2 separate regions of the Homo sapiens genome follow, and region 2 is linked to region 1. Evidence: fine-mapped expression QTL. A gene starts in region 1. The other region holds a variant in brackets. All regions are shown on one strand. Distances are from middle to middle. Region 1 holds the start of GPR137B (G protein-coupled receptor 137B). Region 2 overlaps GPR137B (G protein-coupled receptor 137B).

Region 1 (13,659 bases):
ATGCCAGGGAGTCATGCTCCCAGCCACCCTTGCTAAGATGAGAGCACATGGTCTAGACTCTGCTAATCAAACGCCCCTGCTCCAGACTTTGAATTGGAAGAGTGTGACTTAAGGAAGCATGGACTGCATAATCTACTCTAGAGACGGATTCATTTATCCAAAACCCTTTGTAACCTCTTCCCTTTGCCTGTCCCTACTATAGAGGCTGGATGTGCCAAATGAGTGCTTCCCTTATAGCTCTAGATGGCTTATGGCACACTTCTGGCCCAAAAGATGTAGGTGGAGGCCTGACTTGGGATTTTTTGGTAAAACCTTGTCCTCCTGACATAGGAGTCACTCTTTCTGTCTTCTTCCAATTTCTGCCTTGAATGCAAATGTGATGGCTGGAGCTAGAGCAGCCATCTTGCAACCACGAGAGGACAACTCTGAAGATTAAAGCCAATATGCTAAGGATGATAGAGAAGAAAGACAGATAGGGCCAGGATCCCTCACAGATTTTTTAAATGGTTGAATCAATGCTTGCAACAACTGACATCCAGATATGTAAGAAAGACAAACATTTACTATTAATCTATTATTAGACAGATTTTCTGTTACTTGCAACTTTCTTCTTGCCTAACTGATACAGGCAATTTCCAGTGTCCAGCACTAGTATTTCCTGTGGGGCAAACTACTAGTATCAGAGCCAGTGGTAGGGGCAGTGATATTATTCTAGAACCAGTCCTGCAGCATCACTTTGGGTATCATTCCTTCTTCTTAATCTCCAAGCTCCTCCAGCACTCTTGGAGATTTTGTGAACCACATAATGTGCCTTTTAATGAATTCTTTTTCTGCTTAAATTAACCAAATCTTACTTCTGTTGCTTGCAACCAAGAACTCTGGGAAATATAGAAATAGACACCGGGAGTATTGGTAGCCACATACTCTCAGAGAATGGTGAGAATTTGAGCTTGGTTATCTGGTCTGGTTGAGCTGGAGGAAAATGAAAATTCAGATAGTGTTAAGACGGTTCATGGCATAAATTGTCATTTGTGGTCACTTGCGGTAAAGGTAACCCAGGACAATGAAGATTCCATTGACATTAAAGTTTTCAGAAACAGAGTGATGCTGCTAGACAGCAGTATGAGGGACACAAAGAATTTAAGAGCTGTGGGGAAAAGTGGTTGATTCTAGCTTGAGAAGCAAATAGCAAGGGCTGAAATTCTAGTTCAAGGCACACAGTCTGAAAACCTAGGACTTTTGATGACTTTCAATGAAGATGCTAAAAGACTATTTTATCTTTTGCGACCATGGCCAAAAGGGAGAGCCTGTGCATTTCTGGTTGGTTTTCTTTATTTCTTTCTCTCTCTTTTCTTTTCTTTTCTGACAGAGTCTCACTCTGTTGCCCAGGCTGGAGTGCAGTGGCGCGATCTCGGCTCACTGCAAACTTCGCCTCCCGGGCTCAAGTGATTCTCCTGCCTCAGCCTCCCAAGTAGTGGGGATTACAGGCACACACAGGCACACACAGCCACACCCAGATAATTTTTGTGTTTTCAGTAGGGACGGGGTTTCACCATGTTGGCCAGGCTGTCTCGAACTCCTGACCTCAGGTGATCTTCCCGCCTCAGCCTCCCAAAATGCTGGAATTACAGACATGAGCCACCGCACTGAGCCAGGTTTCTGATTTTCAACATCTGTTGAATGCACAGCCTTCTCTGGTCTCTTATGTGATAGTTCGGGGACTGATTGGAAAGAGTTGGAATCAGGGGATGGAGAATGGGGACAGATGGGACTAAGGACTCAGTGCACAAAGCTCCCCTTATCACAGAAAGCAGCCCTTTCTCTCCGTGTGAGGAGGCTGTTCCTGCCTTGCTGGAAGAACTATGGTTCTTGCCTGAGGAAGTCAAGTTGCCTTGTGTCTCCCACTTCTCATTTTCTTCAAAGACAGAACTAGATACCAACATATCCCTCATTTTATAAAGCCAACCCTGGATGGAGAATTACACACCAAAATAACTACAAGACTTTGCTCTTTATTCTGGAAAAAAAGTCTTCAGAATACATGTGGGAATGGATTTTAAGGGTGCTAAACCAGAGTAGGAGGCAAAGAACATTTGTTTACCAAGAGATTCTAGTTCAATATGCTTCCTGGAGCAGAGGGAGGGGTCTGTTTGTCTGGTTCATTGGTTGAATGAAACCTGGAATTGATGGCAGCCCACATCATTCAAGAGAAGCTGAGAGGTCTGAAATTATCAAGCATAATGTAGAAGCAGGAATCCCAGGAAATAGGAATGTTGCTGTGGATTTATTGTGCAAATCCCACTCACCAATCCCCTAACTGGTCCTGGAGAGGGACCAGAAGACACTCCCTTTGTCAAGGCACCGAGAGAGACACTGGTGAGAGAAGTATATCTCAAAAGTACTGTCGTAGCTATACTCTGTACATCAGGGATGCTATTGAGAGCGGCTGGAGATGAATGGACTCCCTCATGTTTGCCAGGATCCTGGGTGCCAGAGTTCAATGGCAGCACAACCACCAGTAAGGGAGAGGTTATCCCAATAGAAGGCAAGATGATCATGACCAGTCTGAGAATGGCCAGTCTGACAATCAGAATTGCCTGCACATCAAAGATCTTTGGCAGAAACTAATTGAATATGAGCTCTTAGGACAAATGAGATGGGCGGTCCTCTGTGGACCTGCTTAATATAGTTGACAAAAGCAAAATAAAAACTCCCTAGATCTGAATTAAACCATCCCATCAGAGAATGTTGTACCCGCATCCAACTCTCAGACCTGAACTTGGATGCCAAAGAAGTGGTAAATTCCTAATCCCAGCTACTCGGGAGGCTGAGGCAGAAGAATCGCTTGAACCCAGGAGGCGGAAGTTGCAGTGAGCCAAGATTACGCCACTGCACTCCAGCCTGGGCAACAGAGCGAGACTTCATCTAAAAAAAAAAAAAAAAAAAAAGGCTGGGCACGGTGGCTCACGCCTGTAATCCCAGCACTTTGGGAGGCCAAGGCGGGCAGATCACGAAGTCAGGAGATTGAGACCATCCTGGCCAACACCATGAAACCCCGTCTCTACTAAAAAAAAAATACAAAAAAATTAGCTCGGCATGGTGGCGGGCGCCTGTAGTTCCAGCTACTCAGGAAGCTGAGGCAGGAGAATGGCGTGAACCCAGAAGGCGGAGCTTGCAGTGAGCCGAGATCACGCCACTGCACTCCAGCCTGGGCGACAGAGCAAGACTCTGCCTCAAAAAAAAAAAAAAAAAAAAAAAAGGCCGGACGGAGGGGCTCACGCCTGTAGTCCCAGCACTTTGGGAGGCCGAGGCAGGCAGACCAGCTGAGGTCAGGAGTTCAAGACCAGCCTGGCCAACATGGTGAAACCCCGTCTCTACTAAAAATACAAAAAAATTAGCCAGGCGTGGTGGTGGGCGCCTGTAATCCCAGCTACTCGGGAGGCTGAGGTAAGAGAATTGCTTGAACCCGGGAGGCAGAGGTTGCAGTGAGCCGAGATCGCGCCATTGCATGCCAGCCTGGGCAACAGAGCGAGACTCCATCTCAAAAAAAAAAAAAAAAGAAGTGGTAAACTCCCATCACTTTTTCATCTAACTGTTCAGTTGGTACACAGATGGAGGGGTCTTGGAAAATAAAACAGGTAATCATAAGCTTCATATGGTGGTGACTTCAATACAGCAAGCCCACACAGCCTCTGGAGGAAAATGGTTTTTTTCTCATTCCCAATAAGTGAAGAACTCCAAAAGCCACTTTGTCTCATCTAGTAAGGATACTTTCCTATCTCCTTCAGGGTTAGGTCAACTCTGGCTTCATGCCACAATTTGGTCTTCAGAACTCTTAATCATTTTAATGTTTTTTGGACATCACAGTGATACTATATTAATGACATCATGCTATGAGGACCCACAAGGCAGAGATGGCAGTTATTCTAGGCATGTAAGAAACATGTAAATCTCATGAGTCTACAGGGGCCTGTGACCTCACGGAAGCATTTCAGGGAGTCTAGGTTGAGATAGCTCCTCCAAAATGAAGGATGAGATATTACAGCTGACACCGCCTCCTACAGGAAGCAGAAGCGTAATGCTTTGAGGTCCTATTTATGGAAGCAATATTTGTCACATTAGTGGGCTTCTCTGACCCACTTATGGGGTGTCTCAAAAGGGAGCTAATTTTGAGAAGGGGCTCAAGGCAGAGGAGATGCTCCATTTGGTTCAGGCTGCAATGCCATCTGTTTTGTCATCCATGACTCCGTGGATCTAACGGTGCTCAAAGTGTCAATGGCAGATTGGAGAGGTGTACATTACCTGTGACAAGCCCTGTTAGGAGAATCACAGTGTCAGTTATAAGGGTTTGGGAACACATACATGCCTTATTTGTCAAATAACTATTTTTCTTTTGAGAGAAAGAGATGGCTTGCTCCTGGGCTGTGGAAGAGACTGAATGTCTCATCAAGAAGGCAGATTACCATGGAGTCTGAGCTGCCCGTCTTGAGCTGCATGTTATTTTGATCCATCAAGCCACCAAGTCAGGTTCCCCAAAACACCCAGCTCTACTGGAGGCTCTCAGCATTCAGGTGGACATGTCTACCTGCCCTGGGTATGGAAGACATCTTCTGTCCCCAGTTAGCCCACTGCTTATTCAATGGGCTCATGGACACAGTGACCATGCAGGCAGGGACTGACTGATCCATTTTGTAACAATCTGGACTTCCCCACCAAGGCTGACCTGGCTTTTCATGAGTATCGCCAGCCAACTCTGAGCCTTTCAAGAGGTTTCAAACTCAGGGGAAGTCCTAGACAGCCACCTGAAAGCAGATTATATAGACCTCTTTAATCACGTAGGATATCAGCAATTTGTCCTTGCTGTAATAGACAATGTTTCTGAACTTGGACTGACTTTCTTTGCCTCCTGTGCCTGCGTTATTGTCCCGGGACTTTCTGAATGCATTGCTCATCATCATGGTATCCTATACAATATTGCTCTGACCAAGGACCTCACTTTATACTAAAAGAAGAAACGTGGTAGGCTAATTTCTGTCCCTCAAGTAGCAGCTGGCCTTATCCAGTGGTGGAATGACCAATTGTAGGCTTAGTTATTGTGCCTGCAGGACAACAATGCACAGAAAGGTAGCATTGGTGTCCTATAATATATAGAATTTCTTCTGAACCCAAAGCTGACATATCGTGCTATTTGTCCTGCAGTCAGGATACATGGCTACAGGAACCAAGAGAATGGCACCTTTCACTAACACTCAGTGACTTACTTGCAAATTTTTTTGTTTCCCGTTCCTTCGCCTCTAGGCTTGGCTAGTTTGAAGGTCTTAGTAACCAAGGAGGAACTCTTCTACCCCAGGAGATTCAAGTGTGGTTTAAGTGAAATAAAAGTTGAGACCCTGGCTATTTCAGACTCCTCATGCCAGTGGGTGAATTGTAAAAAATAGTATGATGGTGTTGGCTGTGATGACAGTAACTATTAAGAGGAAGTAGAGTTGCTGTTATATGATGAGCAATAAAAGGTGAATAGACAGAATTCAATCATGGTAGTGCCTCTTGCTGCTGGCATGTCCAGTGGCAAACATTAACAAGCTTAGATTCCTCAGAAATCAGGGCTACCCCTGACTAGCTGAGATCCCTGATGAAGGGAAAGGGAAATTTTGTAACGTCCATTAAGGAGAGCAATTACAGCTTTATGACCAGTCAGAAAAACAACAACTCTAACTTATATTTTTTTCTTGCTGTGTCATATGTATGTATTTTATAAATTGATGCAAAAGTAATTGTGGTTTTTGTCATTACTTTTAATTGCAAAAAGCCACAATTACTTTGGCGCCAACCTAATAATGAATTCTCCTTTCCTTTACATTTTTTTCTTCTACTATTTTATACAGGACAAACTAGTGATGGATAACTTAATAATTTAGTCCGTAAGATACAGAATGTTGAGATGAGATGGTGACAGAATTGGAGGAATGGCTATCACCCAGAGCTCCTGGGCTTGGAGCTGGACACAGAAAATGATGATCCTTTTGGGGGAAAGAGGGAATGTGTTTTTCTGTTTTCTTCCTTCCTTCCTTCCTTCCTTCCTTCCTTCCTTCCTTCCTTCCTTCCTTTCTCCTTCCTTCCTTTTTTCCCCTCCCTCCCTCCTTCCTTCCCTTCCTTCCCTTTCTTCCCTTCCTTCCTTCCTGATGGAGTCTCACTCTGTGGCCCAGGCTGGAGCTCAGTGGCGTAATCTCAGCTCACTGCAACCTCCGCCTCCTGGGTTCCAGCGATTCTTGTGCCTCAGCCTCCCTAGTAGCTGGGATTACAGGCATGTGCCACCACACCCGGCTAATTTTTGTATTTTTAGTAGAAACAGGGTTTCACTTGGTTGGCCAGGCTGGTCTCGAACTCCTGACTTCAGTTGATCCACCTGCCTTGGCCTCCCAAAGTGCTGGGATTACAGGTGTGAGCACCTGGCTTGGAATGCTTTTCAATTGTACAAGGGTTATTAAGTGGGAGCATCTTTATTGTATTTTCAGAATTGTAAAGATGATAAGAAACATTTGACACTAGGTAGTCAAAGAGGTGAACTGTTGTAGCCATCTGGCATTCTTTTTGTCTGCTTTGAAGTCATGATAAAGATGCTAGTTTTTCCTAAATCCATTCGCCCCTTCATCCATAATTACAGAACCATGGCTTTCAGCTGTGTACAATGCCACGTGGACTAAAACTACGTTTCCCAATCTCTTGTAGCCAGCTTGCTAGGGTAATTAAGTCCTAGCAATGAGCTAAAAGTGGATGCATTATGTGGTCTTTCTGGGAAGGCTCCAGAAACAGGAGAAAACAAGTGCTCTTTAGTCTTCCCCTGTTCCTCCTAACGCTGGCCTGGGATGTGGACTCAATGTCTGGAGAGCCAGTAGCCCTCCTGGATCATGAGGTAGAATCCATGCACACTGGAGGGAGAAATATCAGAGTCTGGACCTCTGTTGACAAACAATATTCCTTCAGTGTAATAAAATGTATACGGATGCTTTTCCAATGTGCCAGGGGAGAGACTGGTAAACAAGCCTAGTTTCTATCATAAGGACACATAAATAAGTGTGTTGCGGGGGAAACTAACAATCAGGCAAGGATATTAGGGAAGCACACAGGTGAAACACCTAGCCTAATCCTGAGAGTTTGGTGGGTGGAGAGTTCTGGAGAGGCTCTCTGCAGGAAGTTACACCCTCATGGATAGCTAGGAAGGACCAGCTGTTGGAGGAAAGGGCAGAATTTTCTTAGTCTAGGGGAGTCAGGAGGTGTTAACACTGCTTAACACCTTGGAAGAGATAAGGCAGGGAGGTAAGCTAGGGTAGGAGTTTAGACTCTAACCCCAGAACTATGAGGAGCAAGGGAAGGGCATTTAAGCACGGGAGTAAAGTGGCCAGGTGTTCTTTAGAGCGATCATTCCATCATTCCACTTGCGCTGTTCAGAACGGGGATTGAGGGGAACGAGATCAGAGGCGTGGAGCCCAATTCCGTATTTCCTCTTGAAATAGCGATAGGGAGAGAGGGAAAGGATAGAAAAACTGGAAAAGGAGCTCCACGCCAAAGGCACACTTGGCCCCAGTGAACCACCTGGAATACGCTGGGAGCGCTGTAACCACTAAGTAATTCTGAGCAAAAGCTAGGGTGGATTCTGGATATGCCAGGCCGTCTTTTGGAAAAAGAACACACAATTAGGCACGAAGTGGAGTAAGAAAAGAAATCACAATTACTGGAGCCTCGGAAATCCGAGTTTCTTCTGTTTACCAGAACCGCTTGCCCAGCAATGTTTCCAGAGGGCGCCCGGCTTTCCCTCTTTTCCCAGAGCACTCCCCAGCTCTCCCAAGACAAGGGTGGCGTGGTGCCCCGGGGCAAAGACTAAGTCGCTGTACAGCCTCGAGGAGCGAGCTGCTCAGCAAAAGCAAAAGAGAAGGGCTCTCGGGTGGCGGGGACAGACCCTCCTTCGGCATGGGTTGGATCGGACAAGGGGGGCCGTGTGCCGTCAGCTGCCCCACTTCTCTCTGAAGCCCAGTGGGCTCCATCCACTGACCCGCGGCCCGCGCGCCTCCCGGCACCGGCTACATCGCTGGGAGGTGAGGCGCTGGGAGCGCGTGAGGCTCTCCGGGAGAAAACAGCCCAGCTTGCATCCCAGAGGAGGCAGCAGCCGCAGGCACCGTCTATTTCCTCACTCAGTATACAAATTTGACCTCAAAAATACGAACCCTGTCTTTGGCATGTCTGCATTTAGAAATAAACATCATTCCAGACGCCGGCCAGTTCATAGCCACAGAGTCGTAAAGTTTTATTTTTAAAGGGGGGGACGGAAAGGACTTGTAAAGTTTTTTTTTTAAATTTGTTTTTAAATAAAGGAATTAACTTCTGCAAAACAAGCAATCAGCAGCAGAATGCGCGAGGCCACGAGTGCGATCCCCCGAGGCGCGGGGCGCGGCTGGGAAGTTTTGGGGGCGCGCGGCGCGGTGCCGGGACCGGGGAGGAGGCGCGCGGTTCTGGGGGCGCGCAGTGCGGGAGCGCGCGGCCCCGGGGATGGGGAAGGGGCCGGGGACGGGTAGCGCGCGGCCCCTGGGATGGGGAGGGGGCGGGAAGGGGGGAAGAGACGCGGGGCTCTGGGGGCCCGCAGTCTGGGAGCGCGCGGCCCCGGGGATGGGGAGGGGGCCGGGAGGAGGCGTGCGGCTCTGGGGGCGCGCACTGCGGGAGCGCGCGGTGGCGAGGATAGGGCGGGCCGGGGTTCGCGGGGCGAAGGCGCGCGGTGCCCGGGGGAGGGCGGGCCGGGGCGCGCGGGCCGGGGCGGGGGCGCGCGGGCCGGGGCGGGGGCGCGCGGGGCCGGTCGGCGCGCGGGGGCGGCGGGCGCGGCGCTGCCAATCGCAGACAAAGGCCGTCCCAGTGAATCATGTGGTGCCGGGGGAGGAAGTGCGGCTTGTTTTCTTTCCTCCAGTCTCGGGGCTGCAGGCTGAGCGCGATGCGCGGAGACCCCCGCGGGGGCGGCGGCGGCCGTGAGCCCCGATGAGGCCCGAGCGTCCCCGGCCGCGCGGCAGCGCCCCCGGCCCGATGGAGACCCCGCCGTGGGACCCAGCCCGCAACGACTCGCTGCCGCCCACGCTGACCCCGGCCGTGCCCCCCTACGTGAAGCTTGGCCTCACCGTCGTCTACACCGTGTTCTACGCGCTGCTCTTCGTGTTCATCTACGTGCAGCTCTGGCTGGTGCTGCGTTACCGCCACAAGCGGCTCAGCTACCAGAGCGTCTTCCTCTTTCTCTGCCTCTTCTGGGCCTCCCTGCGGACCGTCCTCTTCTCCTTCTACTTCAAAGACTTCGTGGCGGCCAATTCGCTCAGCCCCTTCGTCTTCTGGCTGCTCTACTGCTTCCCTGTGTGCCTGCAGTTTTTCACCCTCACGCTGATGAACTTGTACTTCACGCAGGTGAGTTTCAGAGAGGCTCCTGGAGGCGCTCACCTGGCGGGGTGGTCCCCGCGGGGCGCCCGAGGCAGGGGCGATGGCAGCCGCGGGGGCGGGTCCGGCCCTAGGGCTGAGAGTGTAGGGAGAAGGCGCCGGCTCTGGGGTCGTCCGAACCCTGTCCTGTTTGCGGGCATTTGTCATAGGAAACCCCCTGCCATTCCCAAAAGGGGCAAGGAGAAGGCAGGGGAGGGCTGGAGGCCGCCGCTCACTCGCTGCCCCTGGCTCCGCATCGTGCGGTGGATTCGGGGCGCTTCTCCGTGCGCAGCGCGAAGCAGCAGCGCCTGCACACGCCAGTTAGTACGGATGGAAGGTGTGCCCCCAAGGGAGGCCTGAACTCTAGAATTTGCCCTGCCTCCCCAGGCACCTAACTCCCGGCCTGGAAAGGTCTTCTGCACGTTGGCCTCCAGATTTGGGCCTGACACTGCTGTTTTGAGCGTTGGCAGGGTGAGACCATGTTGGTTTTGATGAGATGTTTTGAACCTCCGGCTTAGGAGCTCTACAGAACTGCGGCTTACTAACTCATTCCACCGGATTGCTAAACAGCAGGCTGGGGTAACACCCAGCTCCGAGCTGCTGCCGCTCATCAGAGTTACTGTCTGAGCTCATCTGAGAGGCCCCAAGAAAAGGCCATAAAAGCTGACTGGGGCTCTTTTACAGCCACACAAAAATCACTTTATGGGGCATATTATTAAATAAGCTAATGGGAGAGTATGTGAATTAACTTGGCTGCTGCTTTACTGCTGATGGTTGACTTAATGAAAGTGCAGTAATTGTTGAGCACTTTGCAAATACTTTGTATAGCGTTGCACAAAGGTTTAATAACGCGGTGCCGCCGTCATCATCGTCATCATCATCTCTGATTCCCATTAGCTTTCCAAGCACTAAGATGTCCATTTTCACTAGGACTCTGCCGAAGGGGAAGGCGTCAACGGTGTCACCTGGTGAGGGTAATTTCAGAACTGTCGGATGGGCAGAAACCCTGTGCAAGCAGGCATCTCATTCCTTTTAAGTGTCTTTTTTTTTTTTTTTGAGAAAAAGTCACTTATTTAAAAAAAGAAAGAGGCCGTATGCGGTGGCGCATGCCTGTCATCCCAGCATTGTGGAGGCGGAGGCGGGAGGATCGCTTGTGTCCCTGAGTTTGAGACCGGCCTGGGCAACATGGCGAAACTTCCTCTCTACAAAATGTACAAAAATTAGCTGGGTGTGGTAGTGCCCGCCTGTAGTTCCAGCTACTCAGGAGGCTGAGGTGGGAGGCGGAGCCCGGGAGGCGGAGGTTGCAGTGAGCAGAGATTGAACCACTGCACTCCAGCCTGGGTGACAGAGCTAGATCCTGTCTCAAAAAAACAAACGAACAAACAAACAAAAAAAACAAAGTAGGAAAAGGATTGCTCTGGTACAGTGGAAGCCACTGACTGAAAATATGGAAGAAGTACTTTTGGCTAAAAAATAGCATATGTGATATTTTGTAGATAGTATAATCTTTTAAAAATGGGTCTACACTCAGACTTCTTGTAAGTCCAGCGCATCAGCATATTTTCCGGTCGGAGAGTAATGCGTATTGCCTGTCCAAGTACAACCTTTAAACCTGCAAACCAGTTCAGGCAGTCGGCTGCATTGCACAGACACTTGGGTTTTGTAATTGAAATGAGGTGGTTCTAGCAAGATGCAAAAGACAGGTGAGGTGATGTTACCCTAAGAACTGTGACAATGGTGGTATTGCACGTTGAGCTCTTTATATTTGTCCCCTTTTTGGGGGGCAGTGGGGGAAGAGGAAAATGCAGGGAACTGCCACAGCTCTCTGGTAATCACATGCAAATTCTGAACTTAGAGCCGGATTAGGGGCCGGGCTGCACATTTTCTGCACCATCTGCTGGTTGGTGAGTAAATGCTGAGCAAGGGAAACAGTGACCAGGCAGACAGAGCCACTCCGGCCCAGGGGCCCAAAGTCACGGCCCTGTACTCTTTATATCTCCCAGGTCTGCGGGCACCACAGCAAAGGCTTTTCGCCTGAGGGCACAGGGTGGCTGGCTGGAGAAGGTGGCATGTCTCCATCTCTGAGTGCTGGCATCTCAGAGCCTGGCAGAACAAAGCCATTTCTGGCTTAGTGACAAAACTGTGATACTTCTGGGGAGTTATAAAGCCTTTTGTCGCCAACCCAGCTCTGCCTCCCTTCTCCTCCTCTCCCGCTCACCCCCTCTTTCTCTTACACAAACCATTGGAATTACCTAAAGTGGGGAGCTTTAAGAATGACTGTTGCTTGGGCCCCCATCTCAGACCAAGTAAATGAGATTTTTGGAGAAGGGGCTGACAGCTAACAATTAAGAAGTATGTTTAAGAAAGCATACTTTCGATCTCGGCTCACTGCAGCCTCCGCCTCCCGGGTTCAAATGATTCTCCTACCTCAGCCTCCTAAGTAGCTGGGACTACAGGTGTGTGCCACTATGCCCAGCTAAGTTTTGTATTTTTAGTAGAGACAGTGTTTCACCATGTTGACCAGGATGGTCTTGATCTCTTGACCTTGTGATCTGTCCACCTCGGCCTCCCAAAGTGCTGGGATTACAGGTGTGAGCCACCGCACCCGGCCAAGAAAGCACACTTCTAAGCAATTGGTTATATTTATTTTTACCAGAACTCTCTGAAGAAAGTACCGGTATTGTCCCCATTTTCCAGAGGAGGAAACTGAGGCTGAGAGGTCGTAGATGACTTGCTCAAGGTCACACTGTCAGTGCATGGTGGAGCTGGGATTCAACACACATCTGTGCTGTCTGAGTGTGAGGTTTGTCTTTTATGTACAGTATGTGAAACCTCTTTTTATTTTATTTTTTGAGATAGAGCCTTGCTTTGTGGTGATCTGGGTTCACTGCAACCTCTGCCTCCTGGATTCAAGCGATTCTCCTGCCTCAGCCTCCCGAGTATCTGGGATTACAGGCACCTGCCACTGCACCTGGCTAATTTTTGTATTTTTAGTAGAGATGGAGTTTTGCCATGTTGGCCAGGTTGGTCTCAAACTCCTGACCTCAAGTAATCTGCCCACCTCGGCCTCCCAAAGTGCCGTGATTACAGGTGTGAGCCACCGCGCCTGGCCATGAAACCTCTTAACAATGGGAAAACATACCCAACTCTAAATCTAACCTCGTGTTCTCCTGGAGCGCAAAATCAGGTTGCAGAGAATCAAAGTATACATACAGCACAGTTAAGGCACGATTTGCGGCACTGAAGGGAATGGTTATTGAAGCGTCAGGAGACTTGAATGAGACATGAGTCCTCTGAGAAGAAGCAGGTGTCTGGAGGCTGAAGCTGGGTGGGGAGGAAGAGAGGATGGTGGGAAGGAAGTCGTGGGGGCAGTTTGGGAATTGGGAATGAACTGGAAGGAGAGGTCCGAGATGGGGAGGAAGCTTTTTTCTGTTGTTGTCAGTCCTTTGTGCTTTTGCAGGGTCCCTGTACCTGGGCCTTACTCATCTCACCCTCCCTGGTGACCCAGAGGGTACTGTTACCCCCCAACTGAGGCTCGGAGGGGTGAGAACACTTGCCCACACTGCCCCGTCCGAGCCTCCGTGCAATGCACACGATGCTGCAGTACGCAGCCCCGGCTGCCCTTGGGTACACATCTGAGGGTAATGCGATCATGAGCAAGCTCAATTTGATTAACTTACCCCTAAATCACTGCTTTTAAATTCTGCCATGTTAAGTCTCTTTCCACCCCTAATGACCTCTCAGGCAGATCCTATGGCTTTCTAGTCATACTCGGTAATTATTATTATTTTGGAGTCTGGCTCTGTCACCCAGGCCGCAGTAGTGTGATCTTGGCTCACTGCAACCTCCGCCTCCCAGATTCAAGCAGTTCTCCTGCCTCGGCCTCCTTAGTAGCTGAGATTACAGGTGTGCGCCACCACGCCTGGCTAATTTCTGTATTTTCAGTAGAGACAGGGTTTCACCATCTTGGCCAGGCTGGTTTTGAACTCCTGACCTCAGGTGATCTGCCTACCTCGGCTTCCCAAAGTGCTGGGATTGCAGGCGTGAGCCACTGTGCCTGGCCCATACTCCTTTATTAAATCTTTACGTCTGATTTAAAGCTTCTCCCACACTGTCCAAGGCCAGCCAGGCTTCGAGCTGCAGGGCTTGGTGCAGAGGGTGTGCCCATGCTCTCAGCCTCTCCCCTTCCATCTTCCCAGGCAGCCCAGGGGAGGG
Region 2 (17,317 bases), 68 kb after region 1:
TGGTTTCATAGAATGATTTAGGGAGGATTCCCTCTTTCACTATCTTTTGGAACGGTTTCAGAATAAGATTGGTACCAATTCTTCTTTGAATATCTGATAGAAATTAGCTGTGAATCCACCTGGTCCTGGACTTTTTTTGTTGTTGGAAATGTTTTTATTGCTGTTTCGATCTCGCTAGTTGTTATGTTCAGTTTCTATTTCTTCCTAATTTAATCTAGGAGGGTTGTATATTTTGATTTTCTAGTTTCTGTAAAGGTGTTCGTAGTAACCTTGAATGATCTTTTGTATTTCTGTGGTATCGGTTGTAATATCTCCCATTTTGTTTCTAATTGAGCTTATTTGGATCTTCTGTCTTCTTGGTTAATCTCACTAATGGTCTATCAATTTTGTTTATCTTTTCAAAGAATCAGCTTTTTGTTTCATTTATCTTTTGTATTGCCTTTTTGTTTCAATTTCATTAGTTCTGCTCTGATCTTTGTTATTTCTTTTCTTCTGCTGGGTTTGGGTTTGGTTTGTTCTTGTTTCTCTAATTCCTTGAGGTAGGACCTTAGATTTTCTATTTGTGCTCTTCCAGACTTTTTTGATGTAGGAATTTAATGCTGTCAACTTTCCTCTCAGCCCCACTTTTGCTGTGCCTCAGAGGTTTGGGTAAGTTGTGTCATTATTATCATTCAGTTCTAAGAATTTAATTTCCATCTTGATTTCATTGTTGACCCAAAGATCATTCAGGAGCACATTAATTTCCATGCATTTATATAGTTTTGAGGGTTCCTTTTGGAGTTAATCTCCAATTTTATATTCCACTGTGGTCTGAGAGAGTACTTGATATAATCTCAATTTTCTTAAATTGATTTAGACTCATTTCATAGCCTATCATATGGTCTATCTTGGAGAATGTTCTATGTGCCAATGAAAAGAATGTATATTCTGCAGTTGTTGGGTAGAATGTTCTGTAAGTATCTGTTAAGTCCGTTTGTTCTAGGGTATAATTTAAGTCCATTGTTTCTTTGTTAACTTTCTGTCTTGATGGCTTGTCTAGTGCTGTCAGTGGAGTACTGAAGTACCCCACTATGGTGTTGCTATCTCATTTCTTAATGTCTAATAATAATTGTTTTATAAATTTGGGGGCTCCCATATTAGGTGCATATATATTTAGGATTGTGATATTTTCCTGTTGGACTGATCCTTTTATTAATAAATAATGTCTCTCTTTGTCTTAACTGTTGATGCTTTAAAGTCTATTTTGTCTGATAAAAGAATAGCTACTCCTGCTTACTTTTTGTTTTCATTTGCATGGAATATCTTTTTCCACCCCTTTACCTTAAGTTTATGTGAGTACTTATGCATTAGTTGAGTCTCTTGAAGACAGCAGATACTTGATTTGTGGATTTTTACCTAGTCTGCCATTCTGTATCTTTTAAATGGAGCATTTAGGCCATTTACACCCAACATTAGTATTGAGATGTGAGACTGTTTTATTCATCATGCCAGTTGTTGCCTGAATACTTTTTTTTTTCATTGTTTTATAGGCCTGGTGAGATTTATGCTTTAAGGAGGTTCTATTCTGGTGTATTTTGAGGTTTTGTTTCAAGAATTAGAACTCCTTTTAGCATTTCTTGTAGTGCTGGCTTGGTAGTGGCAAATTCTTAGCATTTGGTTGTCTGAAGACTTTGTATCTTTTCCTTCATTTATGAAGCTTTGTTTTGCTGGATACAGAATTCTTGGCTGACAATTATTTTGTTTGAAGAGGCTAAAGATAGGACCCCAATCCCTTCTGGCTTATAGGGTTTCTCCTGAGAAATCTGCTGTTAAACAGCTTTTAAAATTCTTTCCTTTGTCTTGACTTTAGATAACCTGACTGTGCCTGATCATCTTTTTGCAATTATTTTCCCAGGTGTTCTTTGAGCTTCTTGTATTTGGATGTCTAGATCTCTAGTGAGGCCAGGGAAGTTTTCCTTGATTATTCCCTCAAATATGTTTTCCAAACTTTAGATTTCTCTTCATCTTCAGGAACACCAATTATTATGTTTGGCCATTTGACATAATCACAAATTTATTGGAGGCTCTGTTCATTTTGTAAATTCTTTTTTGTCTTTGTGGATTGGGTAATTGCCTTGTCTTCAAGTTCTGAAGTCCTTTCTTTTCTACTTGATTCTATTGTTGAAACTTTACAGTGAATTTTTTATCCTCCAAGTGCGTCTTTCATTTCCAGAAGTTGTGACAGTTTTTTATTATATCTGTTTCTCTGGAGACATTTTCATCCATATCTGTATTTTAAAAAAGAGTACTTAAGTTGGTTTTCACCTTTCTCTGGTATCTCTTTGAGTAGCTTAATAATCAACCTTCTTAATTATTTATCTGGCAATTCAGGTATTTCTTCTTGGTTTGGATCCATTGCTGGAGAGCTGGCATGAGCCTTGTTATAGAACCTTGTTTTGTCATATTACCAGAACTGCTTTTCTGATTCCTTCTCATGTGGGTAGACTATTTCACTGGAAAAATCTGGAACTCAAAGCTGCTGGTCAGATTCTTTTGTCTGGGTGGTTCCTTGATGTGGGTTGCTTCCCCTTCTCCTAGTGATGGGGCTTCCTGTGAGCCAGACTGCAGTGATTGTTATTGCTCTTCTTGGTCTAGTCACCCAGCAGGGCTACCGGGCTTTGGACTGGTGCTGGGGAATGTCTGCAAAGAGTCCTGTGATGCAATTCATCTTCAGATCTCCCAGCTATAGATACCAGCACCTGCTCCTGTGGAGGTGGCAGGGGATTGAAGTAGACTCTGTGAAAGACCTTGGTTGTAAGTATGTTTAGTATGCTGGCTTTCTTAAGTGCTTTATGCTAGCAATGAAGTTGCCACCATGGACAGACTCAGGACCACTGTTTAGCCAGGATGTTGGAGGCAGTAGAATTAGCTGTTGTTTTCTCCTTCCTTGGAGCAGGGGATCTGTCATGAGTTGCTGTAATGTCCTGAGGTGGTTGGCCTCCAGCCAGGAGGTGGCACTTTCAAGAGAGCACCAGAGTTTTTCACCTGTCTCTCAGAATTTGCAGTGGCCTGCCGCTTCTTTCCAAGTGTCTGTGAATTCCTTCAGTTTTCCTGGTATGCTCCTGTGGTGGTTCCTGGAGCAAAAGTCCATGGTGTGACTCTCCACACACTGTTCTGTCTGTCCAAGTGGGAGCTGCATGTAAGCCCTATCTCCTATCCACCATCTTCCCCTCAAAGTATTTATATGTAAATAGAATAGATGAACAGAATCTAGATCCAGATGCAAATCTGAAATCCATTCCCTGCCTGTTGAACTTTCACTTCTTCAGGAAACAAATTCTCTGCTCTTTAGCCCCAAACCTCTGCCATGATGGCAGTGCCCATAGGGACACTCTCAAGAAATTTTTGCCCAGACCCATGTCTTGGCGATATTCCCCAATGTTTTCTTGTAGTAGTTTCACAGTTTGAGGTCTTAGGTTTAAGTCTTTAATCCATTTTTTTTGATTTTTGTATCTGGTGAGAGATAGTGGTCTAGTTTCATTCTTCTGCATATGGATATCTAGTTTTCCCAGCACCATTTATTGAAGTCTTTTCCCCAGTGTATGTTCTTGGCAGTTTGTTGAAAATGAGTTCACTGTAGGTGTGTGGATTTGTTTCTGGGGTCTCTATTCTGTTCTATTGGTCTATGTGTCTGTTTCTTTTCTTTCTTTCTTTTTTGTTTTGAGACAGAGTCTTGCTCTGTCGCCCAGGCTGGAGTGCAATGGCGTGATCTCGGCTCACTGCAAGCTCCGCCTCCCAGGTTCACGCCATTCTCCTGTCTCAGCCTCCCGAGTAGCTGGGACTATGGGCACCCCCCATTTCGCCCGGCTAATTTTTTGTATTTTTAGTAGAGATGGGGTTTCACTGTGTTAGCCAGGATGGTCTTGATCTCCTGACCTCATGATCTGCCTGCCTCAGCCTCCCAAAGTGCTGGGATTACAGGTGTGAGCCACCATGCCTGGCCCTATGTGTCTGTTCCTATACCAGTACCATGCTGTTTTAGTTACTATAACTCTGTAGTGTAATTTGAAGTCAGGTCATGTTGATTCTCCCAGTTTTGTTCTGCTTAAAATAGCTTTGGCTATTCTGGGTCTTTTGTGGTTCTGTATAAATTTTAGGATTGTTTTTTCTATTTCTGTGAAGAGTATCATTGGTATTTTGATGGGGATTGCATTGAATCTGTAGATTGCTTTGGGTAGTATGGCCATTTTAACAATATTGATTCCTCCAATCCATGAACAGAAAATATTTTTCCATTTTTTGGTGTCCTCTTCAGTTTCTTTAAATGTTTTATAGTTTTCATTATAGAGCTCTTTCACTTCTTTGTTTAATTTCTAGGTATTTGTGGCTATTATAAGTGGGATTACTTTTTGTTTCTTTTTCAGATTGTTCACTCTTGGTATATAGAAATGCTACTGATTTTTTGTGCAACTTTACTGAATTTATTAGTTCTCATACTTTTTGTGGAGTCATTAATTTGACTTTTTCTATTCCAATTTGGATGCCCTTTCTCTTGTCTGATTGCTCTAGCTAGGACTTCCAGTACTATGTTTAATAACAGTGGTGACTGTGTGTTCCACATCTTAGAGGAAAGGCTTGTAGTTTTCCCCTATTCAGTATGATACTAGCTATGGGTCTGTCATATATGGCTTGTATTATGTTGAGGTATGTTTCTTCTTTCCCCGGTTTGAGGGTTTTTATCATGAAGGAACACTGAATTTTATCAAGTGCTTTTTTAGCATCAATTGAGATGATCATATGGTTTTTATCTTTCATTCTGTTAACATGATGTGTCACATTTATTTGTGCTATGTTGAGCCATCCTTGTATCACATGGATAAATCCCACTTAGTCATGATGAATAATCTTTCCAATGTATTGTTGAATTTGGTTTACTAGTATTTTGTTGAAGATTTTTGCATCAATATTTATCAGAGATATTGGCCTACAGTTTTATGTGTCTTTGGTTTTAGTATCAGGGTAATACTGGCCTCCTCCATGAGTGTAGAAGTACTCCCTCTTCCTCTATTTTTTTTGGATTAGTTTGAGTATGACTGACATTAGTTCTTCTTTAAATGTTTGGTAGAATTCTGCAGTGAAGCCATTGGGTCCCAGGCTTTTCTTTACTGGGAGACTTTTTATTATGGCTTTGATCTCTTGCCTTTTTTCTCCTTGTTACTAACAGTGAAAGTCTTTAGAAAACCTTAAGAGAGCTCTGAAAAGAACCCTTGTTTTAGGGACAGAAGAACTGAAGAAAAGCTGGGAGAAAACATTGCTTTCTCAGTGGATTAGGGAGCAGAGAAATTCTAGTTAGGTAGAATAAAAGACTTGTTATTGGTCTGTTCGGGTTTTAGTCTTTCCGGTTTAGTCTTAGTAGGCTGTATGTGTCTTGGAATTTGCCCATTTCTTCTAGATTTTACAGTTTATTGGCATATAGTTACTCATCATCTAGCTTTTCAATAAGGGATTAAAACAATGATGACTCACTGTTGCAAGCAAGACTCTGATAGAAGACTTTGCCCATACTGATAAAAGGCAAGGCGAATCCCTCTCAAACATAAGAGTAACTGAAATGAATATTCCAGCTGAACAGATATAGCCTACATTCAAATGAATAGAACATCTTTAGTCTCCTACAAGAAAGAGATCTTATTTTTGTCTGGTGCAAGGCATGATGTCTGTAAGTATGCTGAATGATTACCTGTCTTTCTAGACCAACCCTGGAATGGTCCCCAGCCATGGATTCAGTCCCAGATCTTATTTCTTTGACAACCCTCGAAGATATGACAGTGATGATGACCTTGCCTGGAACATTGCCCCTCAGGGACTTCAGGGAGGGTAAGACCCTACTTCATGTTAGACAAGCCTCATCAGGAGGGAAGGGTTACACCAGTTAAATAGATTCAAGCTAAAAGAAAATTCCTACGTTAAAACTGTGCAGCCTTAGGTGGTATAAGACTGGATTCTCAGTAGATCATTTTACTTATGTGAAACATTCAGGAATGAGAAAGGACATCCGGTTTTTTTAAAGCCCCATAGCATTATTGTATACAGTAGTGTTTCCTAAACAATATTCCATGAAACACTATTTTCTTAATAGTTATGCTGTGCAAAAGGAAATGATAATCAACTTTTTTATTTCTTGGAGATAGGGTCTCACTCTGTTGCCCGGCTGGAGTGCAGAGTGGTGCAATCTTGGCTCACTGCAACCTCCCGCTCCCAGGTTCAAGTAATTCTTGTGCCTCAGGCTCCTGAGTAGCTGGGATTACCGGTGTGCGCCACCGCACCCAGCAAATTTTTTTATTTTTAGTAGAGACGGGGTTTTGCCACGTTGGCCAGGCTGGATTGAACTCCTGGCCTCAAGTGATCTGCCCACCTTGGCCTCCCAAAGTGCTGGGATTACAGGCGTGAGCCACTGCACCCGGCCAGAAAAAAAACTTTTTAGAAAATGCCGAGCGAGCCTGTAATATGCTAATGTGTGCTCTGAATCTCCAAGAGGGAAATACAGCACTTGTCTATGGAATCACTCAATGGAACATGATATCTTTAATCACATGTTCTAAAGCTAGAGAGTAAATGCAGTAGTATTTATTTATTAGAATAAATTATACATTATAAAGGACCAAGTTTTCAAATTTGAATGATGTCAGTTCTTAATTTAAAATTTCATTTACATGAAGGGTATTTATTTGGTCTCAATTTTCATGAATACTTATTTAATAAATACTTCTATAGCATCTACTCTGTATCAGACACTGTTCTAAGAGATTCACAAATATCAACTCATTTAGTCTTAACAGTCCTGAGAGGTCAGTACTATTATTAGCCTCATAATACAGATGAAACTGAGGTATCTAGAGGGTAGGTAACTTGTCCAAGGTCACACAGCTAGCAAGTGATCAGGCTACAATTCTAACTCAGGCAGTTTTGTTCAAATTTGTTTTCTGAATCACCATACTATGTAAACAGTTTGTATATAAGTACCCTGTCTCTTAGTCTCACCTACGCTTATGTTATACTTTCACGTGAGTTTTAATAGCAGGAGTCTCCTTCCTTGAATCTACATGCGGATCTGGCCCAGAAAATGTGGAAAGGGCAGTTAAATACTGAGAGTTCAAAGCAGCATACATAGAGGGTGTAAGACAATACATGAACTACCAGTCCGCTGCCATCGCCTAATCTTCAGTGAATTGGGAAGGCAAATAAAAAGAGGGAAGCACCTGAAATTGCAACCATAGCAGAGATCCACCCCAGGATTCCAAGTTTTGCTTACCTCAGCATGGGCATGGTCTGCAAACAGGAAGGGTAGTTGCTATTGGGATTCCCTTCCCTTTTCCTCAGCCTGCTGTGCTCAGCCATACTCCACTACCCGATGACTATCATGTTTCCCCTTTCAGCCTGTGGCTCTGAGACGGTGAGGCCAGCAGGGGTGAGAGGAGCCAAAAGGGCTGACATAGTGCCTGCCAAGCCTGTCTTCTCTCTGCTTGTCCTCTCAGGACCCCCATCCTGTTCCTGGGAAAGGGGAGCTTCTTAGAAAGTGAAAGGTTATCTTATGTAATCTTTTGTAAGATTAAAGACTTAGCATTAACAACTTTACAACTTTTTTCCCTCTGGGATGAAATGATAAAAAATATATGCTTGCCTTTTTACTCCTTGTTAGTAACAGTGAAAGTCTTTAGAAAACTTTTTAAGAGAGCTCTGAAAAGAGTCCTTGTTTTAGGGACAGAAGTACTGAAGAAAAGCTGGGAGAATACATGCTTTCTCAGTGATCGGGGAGCAGAGAAATCCTGGTCAGATAGGATAAAAGATTGTCGCTGAGAAAAAAGAAGAAAGCTGCCCAATGCGCTGAGCCAGCAGATGTAAAGAACGTAAGCTGGAAGCAAGCCAACAAACAAGAAGGACTTCTTGAAGTCAAAAGCTGTCCTTTGGGTCACTCAGATT[C/T]TGAGCTCCACCTCTTCCTTAAAACTGTTCTTTTCCAGTTACCCCACTGCATCTCCTATTAGTTGCTTTCCCCTTTAAACCCATATTCTGCTAGAGCTGTCCCACCCTCTCACCTGCCAGAAATGACTTAGAGCTGAGGGAGTCCTCACTACCGATATGGTGAAGACAAGACCCCCTTTCTACTACATAGAGGAACATAATTATAATGAAAACGACTTACGTGTATTGAGAATTAACTATATATTAGACACTGTTCTAAGCACTTTACAGATGTTAACTCAGTCCCCACAATAGGCCCACGACGTAGTTACTAATATTACTCCCATTCTAAGATGAGGAAATTGAGGCATAGAAGTTACTTGTCCAAAGACACCACCACAGGTTGTGAGCTGTACTCCATGTTAGGATTCAGATGCAGTTTGTTGCTGAAAACATTTCCTATGCATAGTGACTGGCTGGGTTCTCTAGTCATGCTGTATACTCTGTGCTCTAAAGAGTTCAGTAGAGTTGTCGGTGGGCATTTCAGCCCTGTGTGTAGCATGGTTTTGTGGGAAAATGGACTTTAAGAGCCATTTAAAAGAACTTTAGAGTTATCTATAGTTTACACAAAAATCTCAGCTCTGTCTACCTAAACTAGACTATGTCATACATACTATATAATGTTTCAAGTCACTGAAATATTTTTTTCTTTTTAAGTTTTGCTCCAGATTACTATGATTGGGGACAACAAACTAACAGCTTCCTGGCACAAGCAGGAACTTTGCAAGACTCAACTTTGGATCCTGACAAACCAAGCCTTGGGTAGCATCAGTTAACAGTTTTATGGACGATTCCTCAGATGAAAAGCTTCAGAAAAGCATAGTGACAGCTGAATTTTTAGGGCACTTTTCCTTAAGAAATAGAACTTGATTTTTATTTGTTACAGGTTTCCAATGGCCCCATAGGAATAAGCAATAATGTAGACTGATAAACCCTTATTTTAGTACTAAAGAGGGAGCCTTGCTATTTCAGTGGGTATAATTTAAACTTTTTAAAGAAAATCTGTACTTTTATAAAGATGTATTTTGTATAACTTAAATAATAATGCTAAAGTATACTAGGGTTTTTTTTTCTTGAGAATGTTACTGCAATCATGTTGTAGTTTGCACAGACTTTTATGCATAATTCACTTTAAAAATATAGAATATATGGTCTAATAGTTTTTTAAAGCTTTTGGACTAAAGTATTCCACAAATCTTACCTCTTTAGGTCACTGATGGTCACTCCGATTCTGAGTGCCACATTGGTAGACTCCTAAAATACAGTTGACAACTTAGCCAATTGCAACTCCAGTGTTGATAATTAAAATGAAATGGTAAAGCAGCAGACTGTAAGGTCTTTAGAGATTTTTTTTTTAAGGTTCAGGCCGTAGGTTCCTCAAGGAATCTCTTAAGTTTTGCCCAAAGACTGGTACTTCCTTTCAGTAGGGCGCTAATGTATACACATTAATGATAAGTTGATAACATTAAAAATGTAGCTGACTTATCCTATTAAACCTCCTCTGCTATGTTCACAGATTCTGCATAGTTTTTTTTCAGCCTAATGAAATCTAATATGCATTACCTCAGGGCCACATCAAGAATACACCCCTTTCCGAACTCACTGAATGTTCATTACATTCAAGGAGAAAATAAGAGGGTCCATAAAGGGCATTAATAACAAATACCCCAAGCCGTTGAGCTAAGACTATGTGGAATCCTAATAGTTTTTTCCGTAATCTCCAACTATATTTAAAATAATGCCCTTCTAAATAGCTCTGTAAAGAGCCTATTGGAAGCTGCACATTTAAAAATGGCAATAGCACTGCAATATGCTGTAGCATGATGCCTGTCAGCCATGTTCCAGACAATTCCTTGTAAGTCATCTTTCATTTAAGTAAAAAACAGGTTATGAAGTACTGCCTCCCAGACCGGAAGTGCCATTCTAAAAACTCCACTATATATATCCTGGAGCCATAAAACTGCCTATTGGGAGGCTAAATGCTCTGCTTTTCTATAAAACAGAGATAAGGTTCTAGAGGAAGTACTGTTACCAGAAACAAGGCACGTTTCTTCTCTGCCTAGGAATGCTCATCTGGGGACAGAGGGAAGGTTCAATGAAAAGGAACTTATATTAACAAGTCCTACTACATGATGCAACCCATTTCAAATGACTCCTCTCATTTTGATCTTCAGGAATAACTGATCTCTGGGCATTGATTTCACAGATGAAGTCTACTATTGTTTTGGTAGTATTTAAAATTGGGATCTCAAGTTTCAAATTGATCATCATTGGGCTTTTCATGTGTATAGAACACCTTCACTCTGCATAATCCTACATAACAACATTCTTGTCTTCTAGTACATGAAAAAATTGGGGTAACATAGCATTTAAAGTAGTTATCAGGGAAAAGTCTATACTGAAGTGAACCCTACACTGTTATTCAAGTTGCCTTAACACATTATAAGCTATTATTCTAAATAGCTTTAACAGATTATTGTGGTCACACTGTATTACTAATAGTTAATTTAAAGGCAGACTCAGCATGTTTTAAACTCCTTTAAGTTACATCTTCAGAAAGTCCTGAAGTCCTTCAGTATTAGGTCAGCTAAGGGAAGATATATTTTTAAAAATAGTGATAAGACTATCACTAATATCATACTCATCCTGTAATATGTAAACACAGTTCTGTTGTTACTGGCAGAAAAATTGGAATACCCAGCATTAAGTGAGAGAAGTCAGCCTACTTTTATGATGAAGCTACTGGGATTTATTTGAACTATTATTTTTGTTAGATAGTATAAAAATGTTCTAAGTGCCTATTTTTCTCATTCCCCTTTTAAAAATGTAATGCTAAAATTTCTAGAAGTGTTGTAAACACGGAATACAAAAAAACTATGATTGATTACTCAAACTCTCCTTCCTTCTTAGTAAGGAAAATTAAAATTCCCTTTGGCTTTCTAATTTACTTGTTCTACTAGGTACACTAACAAAACTACTTCTGGCTGGGCGCGGTGGCTCACGCCTGTATCCCAGCACTTTGGGAGGCCGAGGCGGGAGGATCACAAGGTCAGGAGATCTAGACCATCCTGGCTAACACGGTGAAAGCCCGTCTATACTAAAAATACAAAAAATTAGCCGGGCGTGGTGGCGGGTGCCTGTAGTCCCAGCTACTTGGAAGGCTGAGGCAGAAGAATGGTGTGAACCCAGGAGGCGGAGCTTGCAGTGAGCGGACATTGCGCCACTGCACTCCAGCCTGGGCAACAGAGCAAGACTCGGTCTCAAAACAAAACAAAACAAAACAAAAAAACTACTTATGTGGAATATTAAATGCTAAGAGGAAAAGGAATGGTGATTACTGGTTGCAAAATACCCAAATGTCCTCTTGTTTTAAAGCAACACGATGAAATTAAAGCCCTGATGATTAGAAAGTTGAAGTATATGGGGAAGAGGGAATCACTGAAAATTTTGTGCCATCATTTAGCTAAGTCTGATGGAACACTGAAAAGTTTCATGTGAACGTTTCTGGGTAACTGTTGGAAATAGTTTCTCTGACTATTGGAATAGGTGTCTACCTCTGCAGCTAATTGTCTAAGAATATTGTATAGATATTTTTCATTGGTTCTTTACCCTTTTTACAATGAACTCAGTTGAGCTGCTGATTAAAACATCTAGGGTATGTTACAGAGTTGTGACTGTAAGAAGGTTTGACTATTACAATATACACATCAATCATATTTATACCAATTCTCTCTTGAATGTATCAGGCAAATTAAAAGCTTTGCTGGTTAAATTTAGCTACTTAGATAAGGCACACTCACTAATGCCTCCTCAAATTTCCTCTTTCACCAAAATCCAAGTCAGCTGCTCTTTGTTGACCTTAGTGCTGGGCCAACACCTAGTTGAACACTTAAACCTTATTAAGAAGAAAGGAATACATATTAGTAAACCCTAGAACTTGAGAAGCACTGTGAGAAAAAGGTTCTCATATTTACATAGTGGATATTACTTGCTTTTATCTTTTAACAGTAAAGGTAAACTTATATTAGAACTAAATGGGTCTAAATATTTGAAACTTTTATCGAGATTTCCAACTAGACAACCTTTATCTAAAAAATACCATTCTTTCACTTTAGATTGTTGCATGAGGAAGAGACTAGCATAGATCTGATCAGAGACACATCTAATATGCATTCCCAGTTTTCATCTTATATGAGAATTGTATTAAAGGACATTTCTAACTGTATACTATCATGCTACTTAAGACATGGGTCCAGATGGAGGAGCTGCTGAAAAGGATCAGGCTAAAATTGGGGAATTTGTCTCATCAAAAAGATTCAATTAATAAACGGATTAAAGTGAGGAAACATTTAACAAGGAACAGTGAGGATAAGAGAGTGGGATTCAATGTCTATTCAGTACCTATTATATGAGAGACGCTGGACTAGGCACTCGTCACGTTTCTGTGGATCCTAGTCTATACTCAGGAACACCCACTTATTAACGTTACTCTAGGCCCTTAGCAAGGATACATAAGAACTCTTGCACCAAGGGTCAAAATACATTGAAGTCTTCTGAGGATGTCCCTGTGCCCATAACCTAGATCTGTGTCAGAGTCCCTGTACCTGTTGCCCGGTTCCTATGGGCCAGGGCACTGATACTACATGCCTTCCGTGTGGAGTTCTGAGATTGGCTGCCCAGGTCATTAATTATGGGTTCAGGGTTGTAAGATCTAAATCCAGTGACTCAGCAACTCCTAATGACATCTACCTGGTTCCTCCAAGTCTGGATTCTCTACCTCTAGTCCTTGAGCTATGGCTGGACCCTGTCTTCTGTTTTCTCAAACTGATTAACATCTTGCTAATACTAATTCTCTAGCTCCAAACCTGGTCTGCCCTTTTGGACCTTGGATGTCCTACCACTCAAAATATTAGACTATGTCCAGAACAGATTTTCTGCCCCTGAACTTAAGTGGAGATCAGATGCCTATAAGATTCCCAAAATTGCCCCCTTTTTCTATTGATTCCTGTTACTATGACCTTTTCCCCATGAATCGCGCTAACCTACAACAGTCCCTCCAGTCTCTTGGCAGGCCCAAGTTACAGTGCTCCTTGAACGGATTAACTGCATTAATGGATTAGCATGCATTTATCCTAAACAAATAGTGCTTTACCAGGGCCATTAAATATGTGTAACTTAGTATCCTTTGAGTGCTATCTCCTTGGTGAATTCACTAGCCAAGAGTCTGGGCTCCAGGTTTGCAGGTTTAAGCTCATTAAAGGGAACAGAACACACACCCATTTGGAGGTATATTCTATGAAGGAAAGCCATAGCAGAAGTTAAATGATACCAGAATGTTGCTTGGAATGTTAACTCCGCTCTGACCAGTGTTAGGGGAATGACTTTAATTGATTAATAGCATCAATCTATGACAATCTGATGGCATTGTCAAGACAACACTAAGATTCATTCATGTTGAGGACACCTTCTGCACTAGATGGGTGTCTAGTTGGCCATTTCCCTTTGGTTGATGTATTTTTTCTTTTGGTGCATTCTCACTACAATCTAGGTAGGTTATAATGTCTTAAGTTATATGATGGCAGGAATGTTTGTCTGTTTTGTTCACTGCTATAGTCCCAGCTCCTATAACAGTGAATGAATAGTCAAATCCTGTTTTTTGGTAGATGTCTGCTTTTTTTTTTTTTTCCAAAGTAACTTCTTGTACTTGCACTTTTATCCACATATTGATTTTACAAGTTTAGTACTTATTTAAGGGTCTCTCCCTCTTGTCTTATGAATCTTTGACAGATATCCAACTTTTGGGCAAATAATTCGTAATGGAATAAAAAAAGAAATAGGGATTTTACATGAGAACAGTCCTTAAATCATTCCTAGAGACTATCTTAAAATAGAAGCACTGAGATGACATTCTTTCCACACAGGCATTGCATCCTGCCTCTATCTGCCATCACCTGTTTGGGCACTGCCAAATAGAACACTGTAATAATTTAAAAGTAGTAAAAAGTGTATCTTTATCAGGTAAAGTATCAAAAGAACAGTGACAAAATAAGTGGTTAAAAGTGCAACCCTTGGGAGAGAACTTGAGTTGGACAGTTTTAGTATGCTCTATATGTTAAGAATTTTTTAAAGCTCATATGGAAAAATAAGAACAGTTAGAAAAACTGTTAAAAAAAAAAAAGGTGGGCAGGGGAGGAATGAGGGAGGACCAATGCACTAGATTAAAACTAAAGCCTGGGTAATTAAAACAATGTGGTACTAGTGCATGACTAAATAGAGCAATGAAATAGAAACAGATACAGAGAAACAGAAGCAGATACACAGCTAAATACATATGACGGATTCTAAGATAAGATCAATGTAGCCTCTCAAACTCGTCAGGAAAAAACAAACAGTTCAATAAATAATATTGGAACAACTGGGTTAATCACCTGCGGAAAAAATTAGGTTAGATCCATAACTTATATCTTATGCCAGAATATGCTTCAGAGGTTCAAAATTTAGATGTAGAATTTAGGTGAATTACTCTATTGCTCTGGATTGAGAAAAACATTCTAATTATGACTCAAAATCCAGAAACCACTAAAAAAACTGGTAATTCAGACTACATAAAAATTTTTTAAAACTCATGACAAAGCCATCATAAGCAAAAGACAGATGACAAATTGGAAAGAAAATATTTGCAACTCATTACTGTCAAAGGGTTCATATCCCTAACAAATAAACAACATATCAACGATATAGTAGAAAAATGGATAGGAACAAAACAATATGGGAAACAAAAGGAAATACAAATGGCTCCTAAACATATTAAAAGGTGGTCAACCTTAGGCATAGTAAAAATTTACATACTGAGCAGTCAGGTGTGTGGCGTGCACCTATAAGCCAGGCTATTCGGGAGGTTAAGGCTGGAGGATCACTTGAGCCCACGAGTTTGAGGCTACGGTGAACTATGATCATACCACTGCACTCCAGCCTGGGTGATAACGTGGGACCCTGTCTCTTTTTTAAGGAAAATAAAAGAATGTACACATTGATATAAATTTTCATCTACCAGAATGGCCAGAATCCAACATTTTAATAACATCTACATTGGTAATGTTGCAGGTTAGCAAGTACTATCATAAATTTTAGATGGTATGTGAATTGATGACTACCCCTATGAAGGACAATATGCCAATATCTTTCAAAATTATAAATGCACACAGTCTTTGCCCCCAAAATTCTTATCTTTGGGAATTTATTCTACAGGTACAATATTTATATAAATGTGAAATGACATATGTACAAGGTCTGGAAACAACCCAGCTGCCCATTAATAGAGGACGGGTTAATTCAACACTGGCACATTCACATAACAGAATACCAAGTATCTACTTCAAAAAATGAGAAAACTATCTAGTCATATGTGAAGACTGCCAAGAAATACTAGGTGAAAAAAATGAAGTCGTATGTATATGATGTCAATTTTTGAGTAAAAATGAGAGAAAAAATAAGACTTTCCATTTGTATATGTTTGTACCTGTCTACAACAGTGTGAATGGAAACCTAAGAAACCAAGAGCACAGGCTATTCATGGTGGGAGATGAGTGTGCAGTGGAGGAAGCTGGGCCAAGGACACAGGAACACATTCACTGAATAACTTTTTATATTGTTTGTTTCTTTTAACCATGTGAATGTATTACCTATTCAAAAAATTAAATAAGATAAGCATATTTTATAAGCTTTATGATTCAATACAAATCAAACAATGCTTTTAATTGTTCCCACTTTGTAGCTGAATGGAAATAGGCCAACTTACAAAATGTCACAAAGGTTCTAGAATCAGTCTTTCTCGTCTCAAATTCTTGCTCCACAACCTAGAATTTGTGACTATGGACAGGTTACTTAGCCTTTTTTATCCTCAGTCTTCTTACTTATAAAACAGAGAAGTAATTGTACCTACCTACTAGTGCTATTGTGAAGATTAACGGTGTATTCTTTTAAAGCCAAACTATGCATGTAAAAGCCCTTAATACAATGCCAGCCAATGCTTGCCATTATGATAAGAAACAACCTCAGACTACTTATAAATACATTTTCTCCCTTCTCCACAGGTTACAATCAAATTCTCATGCCATAAAAAGAAACACTTAAAATAGCGGGGAAAAACAAGACAGAAAAGATTGCAGAAACATGTACTTTAATTCACATTTTCTAGATTCTGGTGGGTACAACAGTAAATTATTTGGAATTCTGTTCAAAATCAAAGCTGCACCTGTAGATATTCCTTAAAATACAGTACACATAGATTTGTGTGTGTGTTTTTTTACCAAATAATTTCCACGATACCATGCACCTAATCTGTGTATTTTGGTGAGTAGCTATGGTTTCTGCAGGTACCTCAGTTTGCAAACTACTGAGAGGTTTACTGTGAACTGTTCCCAAATTTTCAGCTGAAGGCAATGCTGATGAAGATCAAAATAGCTGTCCTTTCTTATATACAGTGGCACATAGGCAAAGTTGAAAAACATGGCAGAGTTTCATATACATACAGAGATTACAAATATCGAATAATTCACAATGTTAAAAATGTCAAAATAAAACGTTTTGACTTATCAAATTTCAAAAGTGTGGAGTCTTATTCTGTCTGATCCTCCTCATAATCTAAGAATCAAAACAGGAGAAACATTCAAAGTTTACCAATTTTAATATATAGTTTGTCTAACTTACATAGATGCCACTTAAGTAAAAAATAAACTTACGCCATTGAAGGAAGGAATATTTTCCTTTTCTTCATTTTCATTACTTCATCAGTGGGTACAATCATTTCTGTCAGTTATATTATCAAGTGCTGGGTTTTTAAATTAGGTGATGAGATAAAGACAAAATGCCAGAGCACCAGCAAAGCATTTTTACAATGCAAACAGTACTCTAGTATAATATCACTTCACGACAAAAGATGTGAATTGGAAAAACAGTTTAGATCACAAGAACCATAAAATGTCACCAGGCTCACACAATCATTTAAGAAATAAAAACACATACACAAAAATGTAGGCTGCCCCTACAATCTAATTTATGATAAAATAAGATGAATTTCAGCCTAAGAATACTTCATTTATTTTCTTAGTTGTGAAAAAATTAGTTAAGAACCTTAAAAAGAACTTTTTACTCTAACCAGATCTTTTAATTTCCTAGAACATACTCTAATATACTAGTTTTCCTAAGCTTGAAACAAATCACAGTACAGAAAAAAACAATAAATGGACATGAGCGAGGATTTTCTCCAGTAAACAGTTTAAATAATAGCCTTTAACTGAGGGAGTGGTGAAATAACACT

What was found.
Region 2: its variant is fine-mapped to the expression of GPR137B in whole blood (TOPMed, PIP above 0.99).

The regions. Positions count from the first base shown.
Region 1 is chr1:236,133,602-236,147,260 of GRCh38, forward strand. GPR137B (G protein-coupled receptor 137B) reads left to right here and starts at 8,938. Exons shown (of 7, transcript NM_003272.4): 1 at 8,938-9,435. The coding sequence starts at 9,022. RefSeq lists silencers at 8,677-8,856, 8,927-9,196 and an enhancer at 9,162-9,665.
Region 2 is chr1:236,199,395-236,216,711 of GRCh38, forward strand. It overlaps GPR137B (G protein-coupled receptor 137B), which reads left to right. Exons shown (of 7, transcript NM_003272.4): 6 at 5,732-5,856; 7 at 8,656-9,513. The coding sequence ends at 8,764. ERO1B (endoplasmic reticulum oxidoreductase 1 beta) reads right to left here. Exons shown (of 16, transcript NM_019891.4): 16 at 15,707-17,317. Among named protein-coding and RNA genes, the nearest start is that of GPR137B, 66 kb to the left of the region's middle. The variant C/T (reference allele first, on the strand shown) is at 7,960.